Linked DNA regions of Homo sapiens: region 1 is linked to region 2. The links come from fine-mapping of genetic effects on gene expression. A gene starts in region 2. The other region holds a variant in brackets. All regions are shown on one strand. Distances are from middle to middle.

Region 1 (5,378 bases), 110 kb after region 2:
GTTAAAAGTAAAAAATTAGCTGGGTATGGTGGCGCATGCCTGTAATCCAGCTACTCGAGAGGCTTAGGCAGGGGAATTGCTTGAACCTGGGAGGCAGAAGTTGCAGTGAGCCGAGATTGCGCCATTACATTCCGGCCTGGGCAACAAGAGCAAAACTCTGTCTCAAAAAGAAAGAAATTACCACTTTGTGAGCCAAAAGTGATCACATGTTGGCAATTTTATGTGACTCAACCTAACATAAATAGGGGCCATGAGGCAAAACTTTGTATTGGAGGTTTCTATGGGCCCTACACTGTGGCCCTATGTTCCCCGCAGACGGCTTACCAGAAAGCACATGGCTGTCTCTGCAGCCTTCCTCCTGAACCCAGAGTCCCACTCTTGCCATCACACATTATATTCAACATACATCTGTCAATCCCACCGTAGGCCAGGCACAGTGCTGGGCTCACATCCCTTCCTAGACCTGGGTCTCTGTCCCCAGTGTTTGTCTCTGTCTGTCTCTGTCTCTCTCTGCCCCAAATGTCTGCCCCGCAAGCCTCTCAGTCCTCCTTGTCTGCCAGCCTTCCCACTACCCATCACCTATCGAGCCCGTCCCCCAAGTGCCAACCCCACCCCCACAATCTTGTCTCTCTGCCCCTTCCCCTGCTTCCGAGGAACATGTCTGGACTCGGGTCCCCTCGGAGGTAAGAGGGGAGAAAACGGGTTTAGGCCCTGCTGGGTAGGTGAGGAGGGGGAGAAGCAACAGAGGTGGGGGAGGTGTATGCTGAGACCAGCCCTCACCGAGCTGGGATCTCTAGGACTCAAGCCAGATCGAGCTGCTGAAGGAGCTGCTGGATCTGCAGAAGGACATGGTGGTGATGTTGCTGTCGCTACTAGAAGGTAAACACCCAGGAGTGAGGGTGAGGGAACAGTAAAGAGGTTCAGAGAAGCCTGAGAATGGCCCCCTGAGACCCGGGAGACCCTAATCCTCAACCCCATCTGACATCGTGTCAGGATCCATGGGTTGATGAAGAAGCCATAATAGGCCAGATGCGGTGGCTACACCTGTAATCCCAGCACTTTGGGAGGCCGAGGTGGGAAGATCACCTGAAGTCAGGAGTTTGAGACCAGCCTGGGCAACATGGTGAGACCCTGTCTCTACTAAAAATACAAAAATTAGCCTAGTGTGGTGGTGTGTGCCTGTAGACCCAGCTACTCGGGAGGCTGAGGTGGGAGGATCACCAGAGCCCGGGAGGTCCAGGCTGCAGTGAGCTGTGATCACACCACTGCACTCCAGCCTGGGTGACAGAGCAAGACCCTGTCTCAAAAAAACAAACCCCAAAAACAAACCAAATGTCCAAATGTGGCAAAAGATAAACAATTGATGAATGTGGATATATTAGGATCCCTTTTTTTTTTTTTTCTTTTCTGAGACGGAGTCTCGCTCTGCCGCTCAGGCTGGAGGTGCGGTGGCGCGATCTCGGCTCACTGCAAGCTCCGCCTCCCAGGTTCACGCCATTCTCCTGCTTGGCCTCCCCGGTAGCTGGGACTACAGGCGCCCGCCACCACACCTGGCTAATTTTTTTTTTTTTTTTTTTGTATTTTTAGTAGAGACGGGGTTTCACCATGTTGGTCAGGATGGTCTGGATCTCCTGACTTCGTGATCCTCCCGCCTCAGCCTCCCAAAGTGCTGGGATTACAGACTTGAGCCACTGCGCCCAGCCTACATTAAAATTTAAAAATTACAAAAATAAACTGGAGCCAAGCTTCAGCTGCTGCCTTTAGAGGGAGTGTGGGATCGCAGTTTGCCAATCTCTACCTCTCCTTGCTGCTTACCACTGGCTAGCCTCAGTCTTCTGTGGACCCTCCTGACTGTGTGTACTGGTGGAAGTTTTAGTTGTGTAAGCCCTGAGGTCATGCAGCTCTGAGTTCAAATCCATTCTCCCCACTTTACTGGCTATGTAACTTTGAGTGCATGACTTTCTCTATGTCTCAGTTTCTCTTCCTAAAAGTAGAGTCACACACTTCCCTTTTTGTGTGATTGTGCCAGGGTAGCATTTGGCACCTACCTTTAGCGTACATCATCATTATCTTTTTTTTTTTTTTTGAGACAGAGTCTCACTCCATCACCCAGGCTGGAGTGCAGTGGCACGATCTCGGCTCTGCAACCTCCGCCTCCCAGGTTCAAGCAATTCTCGTGCCTCAGCCTCCCAAGTAGCTGGAA[A/T]TACAAGCACATGCCACCACGCCCAGCTGATTTTGTATTTTTAATAGAGACGGGGTTTCACCATGTTGGCCAGGCTGGTCTCAAACTCCTGGCCTCAAGTGATCCACCCACCTCGGTCTCCCAAAGTGCTGGGATTACAGGCGTGAGCCACCACGTCCGACCTGACATCATTAGCTTTACTGGGGGAGGTGGGCAAAGGCAGGATCAGCCAGGTTGGCACAGGAGGCTGACGCAGGTCAGGAAGGGACCTGTGGAGGGGAGGCTGTGGCTGGCCAGGGACACTCCAGCAGCGTGGTGGCTCCTGGGCTGGAAAGAGAGGCAAGCCTGGTGGGGCCCCAGAAGGGAGTGTTCACCGGCCACACTGACCTGGGGCTGCCTGCAGGGAACGTGGTGAACGGCATGATCGCCCGGCAGATGGTGGACATGCTCGTGGAATCCTCATCCAATGTGGAGATGATCCTCAAGTTCTTCGACATGTTCCTGAAACTCAAGGACATTGTGGGCTCTGAAGCCTTCCAGGACTACGTAACGGATCCCCGTGGCCTCATCTCCAAGAAGGACTTCCAGAAGGTGGGTGTGGGACATCGTGTGGGCCCAGGACTTGGGTGGGGTTGCCAAGGGCCAGCCATACCCTTCTGGCTGGCTGCCTCAGGCAAGAGACATCTCTGCAAGCCTCACTTTCCTTGTTTGTAAAATGAGGATAAAACAGTCCTTGGGTTATATGTATTCTGTTTTATTTCATTTTAGAGACAAGGTCTTTCTCTGTTGCCCAGGCTGGAGTGCAGTGGCGTGATCATAGCTCACTGCAGCCTTGACCTCCTGGCTTAAGCAATCCTCCCACCTCAGCCTCCTGAGTAGTTGGGACGACGGGTGTGTGACATCATGCCTGGCTAATTTTTAAGTTTATTTTTTGTAGAGATGTGGTCTCACTACATTACCCAGGCTCCTCTTGAACTCTTGGGCTCCAACAATTCTCCTACCTTGGCCTCCCAAAGTGCTGGGATTATAGGCATGAGCCACCTCGCTCAGCCCCCTTGGGTTATTTTGAGGATGAAATGCATTAACACAGATGAGAACCGTTATTACTGTTATCTTTATTGATAGTCATAACATTATCATTATTGTGAATAGGCATCAGTTATTCCATCAATAAACATTGGCTGGCTTTCTTCTCTGTGTAGGGCCTGTAGTGACACTATTGACGCATCAATGACCAAGATAGACACAGCCCGTGCTTTCATGGGTTTATAGTCTAATGGGGGAGGCAGTCACTAACTAGACCATTCCAAGTCTAAATAATGAGCCTGCTAGGAGGGAAGTGCTGGAACATCCTTATTCAGAAACCCACTCCTCCTCCTCTAACCACCTCTCCCATCCTAACTCTCCATCTTTTCTTCTGAGCCTCAGTTTCCTACTCTGTAAAATGGGGATAGGATAATCACATTAACCACTAACTATTGGCAGTGTGCGGTGGTTCATGCCTATAATCCCAGCAATTTGGGAGGCCGAGGTGGGAGGATCGCTTGAGCCCAAGAGTTCGAGATCAGCCTGGGCAACCTAGTGAAACCCTGTATCTATAAAAATAAAAATAAAACAACTATTAACTATTGTGAGGATGGGCAGTGCGGGCAGTACCTGGAATATGGTGAGTCCTCAAGAGATGTTAGCTGCTATTACTACTCCCTGATCTTTAATGTTACCATTTTGTTAACTTTTTATTTTGAAATAACTTCAGGTTTATAGAGACGTTGCAAGAACAGCACATAGAATTTCTGAATACCTTTCACCCACATTGCCCAAATGTTTTCTATTTACTATTTACTCCATCATGATTTCCCTTTCCTTTCCTTTTTTTTTTTTTTTTTTTTTTTTGAGACGGAGTTTTGCTCTTGTTGCCCAGGCTGGAGTGCAGTGGTGCAATCTCAGCTCAGTGCAACCTCCGCCTCCTGGGTTCAAGCGATTCTCCTGCCTCAGCCTCCTGAGTAGCTGGGATTACAGGCACGCACCACCATGCCCAGCTAAATTTGTGTGTGTGTGTGTGTGTGTGTGTGTGTGTGTGTGTGTGTGTGTGTGTGTTGTATTTTTAGTAGAGATGGGATTTCACCATGTTGGCCAGGCTGGTCTTGAACTCCTGGCCTCAAGTGATCTGCCTGCCTCGGCCTCCCAAAGTGCTGGGATTACAAGCATGAACCACCTCGCCTAGCCAATTTCCCTTTACTTTGAAACACTTCAGCGTGTATCTCCTGAGAACAAATTCATTCTCCTACCTAAGCACAGGACAATTATGCTAATCAGGAAATTAACATTGGCACAATGCTGCTATCTAATCCTAGACCTTATTCAGTTTCCCTTGTTGAATAAATTTCTTTCGTCAATGTCTTTTCTTTGCCAACCCAGAACCAGGGATTGTATTTAGGTGTTCTGTCTGTTTTCCTCCTTCAGTCTGGAACTGTGCCTGGGTCTGTCTTTATCTTTCCTGACATGTTTGAAGAACGCAGGCAAACTGTTTTGTAAAATGTCGTTCAGTGTGGGTTTGTCTGAGTTTTCATCATTATCAGACTAGGGTTATGCATCTTTTGCAGGAATATCAGAGAAGTGATGTGTCCTCAGTGTAATGTATTAGGAGGCACATGTGGTTTCATCCCATTACTGTTTATTTTCTTATTTATTTGTTTTTAGAGTCAGAGTCTTGCTCTATTGCCCCGGCTGGAGTGCAGTCAAACAATCCTAGCTCACTGCATCCTTGACCCCCTGGGCTCAGGCGATCCTCCTGCCTCAGCCACCCAAAGTGCTGGGATTACAGGTGTGAGTCACTGCACCTGGCCAATGTCTCTTCCCATTACTGTTGTTAACTTGGATGGCTTGGTTAACTCGGTGTTCACCAGGGGCTCCACAATGAAGTTACTGTTATTCCCTTTGGAATCAATAAGTGTCTCATGAGGATATACTTTGAGGCTATGTAAATATTCTGCTAACTCTGGGGTCATCATCCATTGATGATTCTTGCCTGAAACAATTATTCCTCTAGTAGCTGACAAATGGTGGTTTTCTCATTTCGCCGTATGCTTTACCATCACTAGGCACCATTTTACTGTAAGAAAGAGTGTTTCCTTCTTGTCCATTTCATTTCATTTTCTCATTCATCCATTCATTTATATCAGTGTGGATTCACGGC
Region 2 (5,378 bases):
AACATTCTCCCTCAGCTTCCTGGGGGACCAATACACAGATGTTCCCTCCAGCATTATTTCGGGAGAGCTGGAGGCAGCCTGGGTGTCCGCTCCCAGTAGGGGTAGGTGGAAAAACAGAAGGGATCAGTCACCAGAGAATCCTGCAAAGCCACCACTGTCACACACCAGGTGTCCACAGAGCAACAAGGGTAGGTCTTAAAACACATAATGATGACTGACAAAAATAAGAAACACTATTAATATCTTATGATATAATGCTCAATGACACAGAATCATTTTACATTTACATAAAGTTTTAGGGAAAAACAATATTTAATATACAACTATGCGTTGGATAATGTATAACAGATACAACATAGAATTGTATTGTACTGTATAATTATATTAGCCTAAATATATAATTATATAATTATACATTATATAATGCCAAATTATATAATTCCATAATATGACACAAACTTTTGTGCTATTTATTGCAGTTGTGTTAACATCAGTATTTAATTATGGAACACCTAGAAACCTGCTATACCTTGAAGAACGGTTTCTATGTAATTTTGTTTAACTATGGGATATTGTTTTATATAACTTACTGTATACCACTACATGTTAATAAAAAAAATTTTTTTTTTTTTTTTTGAGGTGGAGCCTTGCTCTGTCACCTGGGCTGGAGTGTAGTGGTACAATCTCGGCTCACTACAACCTCTGCCTCCTGGGCTTAAATGATTCTTGTTCCTCAGCCTCCCAAGTAGCTGGGATTAGAGTCGTGTGACACCATGCCCAGCTAATTTCTGTGTTTTTAGTAGAGTCAGAGTTTCACCATGTTGACCAAGCTGGTCTCAAATTCCTGGCTTCAAGTGATCTGTCTGCCTTGGCCTCCCAACGTGCTGGGATTACAGGCATGAGCCACTGTGTCTGGCCTAGTAATAATTTTAATAGGGCTGGACGTGGTGGTTTACACCTGTAATCCCAGCACTTTGGGAGGCTGAGGTGGGCGAATCATGAGGTCAGGAGTTCGAGACCAGCCTGGCCAACATGGTGAAACCCCGTCTCTACCAAAAATACAAAAATTAGCCGGGTGTGTTGGCAGGTGCCTGTAATCCCAGCTACTCAGGAGGCTGAGGAGGAGAATCGTTTGAACCTGGGAGGTGGAGGTTGCAGTGAGTCAAGATCTTGCCACTGCACTCCAGTCTGGGCAACAAGAGCAAGAGTCCGTCTCAAAATAAATAAATAAATAAATAAATAATAATAATAGCAACACTTACATTACATTAACCAGGCACTGGCACTGTTTTAAGTTTTATCTCATTTAATTAATTATCTCATTTAACTCTCCCAACAACCACGTGAGGTCGGTACTATTAATATTCCCCTTACTGGATGGGGAAACCGAGGCACAGAGAAGCTAAGTGGCTTATCCATGTAACTCAAGGAAGTGGCAAGGCTGGGTGGGATTCAGATCCAGATTATCTGGCTTGGAGTCGGAGTCCTTGTTCTTTTTTTTTTTTTTTTCAGACGAAGTCTCGCCCAGGCTGGAGTGCAGTGGCTCAATCTCGGCTCACTGCAGCTTCTGCCTCCCGAATTCAAGGAGTTCAAGCAATTCTCCTGCCTCAGTTTCCCAAGTGGCTGGGATTACAAGCATGTGTCACCACGCCTGGCTAATTTTTGTACTTTTAGTAGAGACGGGGGTTTCACCATGTTGGCCAGGCTGGCCTCGAACTCCTGACCTCAAGTGATCCACCCACCTCGGCGTCCCAAAGTGCTGAGATTACAGGGGTGAGCCACCACTCCCGGCCGGAGTCCTTGTTCTTAATCACTATGTTTGGTGCTTTTTAAAGTCAGGAGATCTGGTGCACATCCCTGCTCTGCTGCGTGATATCTTGCAAGAACTTCCCCACTCAGAGCCTCAGTCTGCCCTCTGTGAAATGGGAGAATGATGGCACGTTACTTACCGTGGTGGGGAGAAAGCGCAGGTACCTCCTAGATACTCTCTCTCCCACCCCACCTCCGGCGGCCAACGGCCAAGCAAACCTCCAGCCAAGATTTGGGGTATGTGGGCAGGGCTCCGGCGAAGGGGAGTGGCCGGGGAGTCCTGGTCCAATGGGGCCCGGGGGCGGGGACTTCCTCCCATCTCTGTCCAGCATGCGTGTACTCCTCGCAGTTCCATCTACCTCGCGGGTGCCTCTGGTGTCTCCAGAGGTCTCCGACCCCAGCCCGCCCCCAGCCCTCCCGCCCAGCCCGCAGCCCCCTCCCTCTGTTCCCCGACCTCAGACCCTGGGCTTCCGACCTCGACATCATGGGTGACGCAGAAGGCGAAGACGAGGTCCAGTTCCTGCGGACGGTGCGTATCTCTGGGTTAGGGGCCTGTGGGGCTATCTCTTGGGGCTCTCTGAGGGTCTCTCTGTCTCTGAATGTCCCTGTCCGGCTTGCTGGTGGTCTCTGAGACTCGAGGTCTCTTCCTATGTCACTTTGAGTGACTGTCACTCTGTCTTTTAGTCTCCTTCACCTTTCTCACTACAGAGAATTAGTAGGATTGGGGACTCCAGAATGGGAAAGGGATCTTCGGTTGCCCTCTCTTCTGACTTTAGCGATTTGTCCCCCACAAGAAGGACCCCCGAGGGAGCACACCCTCACACCATCTTGGAAGCAGGCACTTGGGGAAGGTGGTTCTAATTCCTGGGCTTGATTTAGCCATCCCCCCACCCCCACCTTAGCCCTAATTCTCTTTTTGCTCCAGACTCTGACCTATTTAAATTCTTGAGAAGGGAGCTGGAGTGAGCTGGAGGACACAGCTGCTTCCAACTCCTAGCCCTTGAGGGTCTTGTGGGGGAGGGATCTCTTGGGTTCTGGGTCTTTCTTTCCTTCTTCGTTTTGGGCAGGAGGGCTGCTCCCAATGGCTGCTAATGGTCTTGCAGGGTCTCTGGGTGGTGTCTCTCCCCATCTGTCTCTTTGGGTGTCTCCATGTCTCTGTCTCTTCCTCCATCTCAGTCTCCCTGTCTCTGTTTCTTAGCTTAAGGCCCTCTGATTTTCGCTGTCTCTCTAGCTGGGTTACTCCCTGCATCTGAGCCCCAGCTGGGGGCAGGGATGGGAATTGGAACAACAGGTGTCCCTCCCAGAATAGCCGGCTTTTCTGGGGCCTGGGCAGGGGATGGGGAGGGGATGAGAGGGAGGAGGGGCTGCCATCTCCTTGTCCTTCCCATCTTCCCCTCCCAGTGGCTCCGCAGGGTGTGGGGTCGTAAATATGGGAGGGGACGTCCTCTCCTCTGGGCTAGGTCTGCTGACCAGACGCTAGCCCCGCCCCTCCCCCCGGGGCCCTGGAGCCACACAGGAAATGCTGACACAGCATTCCTGCCCCAGAATAGGACCCTGGCGAGCCGGGTCCGGTTTCCTGGGAGAGAGGAACAAACAGCTGGGGCTGGTAGTGAAGGATGGGGACAGCTGGGAAGGGGCCTAGCTTCAGCCGAGACTCTCTCCCCAGCCCCAGCCCCTCAGCAGACACCATGGGTCGGGCCCTCCCCAGCCCTAATAAGACCATGGCCATGGCCACTGGCTCTTGAGCTGTCGCTCTAAACCAGGCCCTGTGCCCTGGGCCTCTGCCTCCTGAGACATCTAATTATATCCTTGCTGCCCTGTCTTCTGAGGTAGGGTCCTATCTTTATCTCCCTGACAGATTTGAGGGAAACCAAGGCCCGAATGGTAGAATCACTCACCCAAGGTCAAGGCCAGGAAGTGGCATCTCTGGATGCCCCTGGTGCCCAGCCCCATTGCCTTCACCAGAGAAAATCTGGGCCCAGACTTGCCAAAGTAGTCAGCGTTAGGGTTCTGGAGGCTTGGCCCTGGAATCTCTCCACCCCAGACTGGGTCAGTTTTTCTGATTGTTACTGAGGTCGTGGTGGATTTCTCAAAACTTTCTGGAGGCTGGGCTCAGTGGCTCATGCCTGTAATCTCAGCACTTTGGGAGGCCAAGGTGAGCGGATCACTTGAGGTCAGGAGTTTGAGACCAGCCTGGCCAACATGGTGAAACCCCGTCTCTACTAAAAATACAAAAAAATATTAGCCAGGCGTGGTGGTGCATGCCTGTAATCTTAGCTACTCGGGAGGCTGAAGTGGGAGGATTGCTTGAACCTGGGAGGCAGAGGTTGCAGTGAGCCGAGATTGCGCCACTGCACACTCCAGCCTGGGCGACAGGGCGAGACTCCATCTCAGAACAAAAAACCTTCTGGACCACATCCCGCCCATAAGAAACATTCTGTCTTACAACTCAGTACATGCACACATGCATAGACATGACTAAAAACCAACTTTATTGAGGTATAATTGACCTGCAATAAATTTTACCCAGTTTATGTGTTCAATGAGTTGTTTTGTTTTTGTTTATTTATTTATTTTTTTGAGATGGAGTTTCACTCTTGTTGCCCAGACTGGAGTGCAATGGCGTGATCGCAGCTCACTGCAACCTCTGCCTCCTGGGTTCAAGCGATTCTTCTGCCTCAGCCTCCTGAGTAGCTGGGATTACAGGCGCGTGCCACCAAGCCGAGCTAATTTTTTGTATTTTTAGTAGAGATGGGGTTTCACCATGTTGGCCAGGCTGGTCTTGAACTCCTGACCTCAGATGATCCACCCATCTTGGCCTCCCAAGGTGCTGGGATTACAGGTGTGAGCCACCACGCCCGGCCTTTTTTTTTCTTTTTGAGACAGAGTCTCAATCTGTTGCCCAGGCTGGAGTACAGCAGTTTGGTGGTTGGTTCAACGCAACCTCCACTTCCCAGGCTCCAGTGATCCTCCCACCTCAGCCTCCTGAGTAGCTGGGACTACACGTGCATAGCACCATGCTTGGCTAATTTGTAAAATTTTTTGTAGAGGTGAGGTCTCACTATATTGCCCAGGCTGGTGTCAAACTCCTGGGCTCAAGAAATCCTCCGGCCTTGGCCTCCCAAAGTTTTGGGATTACAGGCATAAGCCACCATGCCCGGCCTTTCTTCTTTCACTCAGCATAATATTTTTGACATTCATCCATGTAGCATGTATTGAGTTTGTTGCTTTTTGTTGCCGAATATTATTCCATTGTGCGACTATACTGTGGTGTGTTTATCAGTTCACCTGCTGATGGACATTTGAGTCGTCTCCAATTTTTACTATTATAGACAACACAGGGCCTGTGACCATTCACTTGTACCTATTTTTAACTGAAACAAGTCTCATAAAATGTAGATGGCCCCTGAAGCATGATGGGCACGCTGTGATTTTCTATTCTTGCTCCATTTTGCTTCGTTTGGTTAAGTATGATGGCCACAGCCCCCCCAAACTGATTTCACTTCCCTTTGGTGGGTGGTGACCTCTACCCTTACCCAGGCTGGGGTTTCTCAAACCCTGGCCCAAGT

The links. PIP is the estimated chance that this variant, and not a neighbour inherited with it, causes the effect.
Region 1: its variant is fine-mapped to the expression of RYR1 in whole blood (INTERVAL, PIP above 0.99).

Annotation. Positions count from the first base shown.
Region 1 is chr19:38,545,648-38,551,025 of GRCh38, forward strand. It overlaps RYR1 (ryanodine receptor 1), which reads left to right. Exons shown (of 106, transcript NM_000540.3): 88 at 798-879; 89 at 2,586-2,773. Among named protein-coding and RNA genes, the nearest start is that of MAP4K1-AS1, 48 kb to the right of the region's middle. The variant A/T (reference allele first, on the strand shown) is at 2,204.
Region 2 is chr19:38,431,537-38,436,914 of GRCh38, forward strand. It overlaps RYR1 (ryanodine receptor 1), which reads left to right and starts at 2,155. Exons shown (of 106, transcript NM_000540.3): 1 at 2,155-2,338. The coding sequence starts at 2,294. RefSeq lists a silencer at 2,038-2,177 and an enhancer at 2,909-3,484.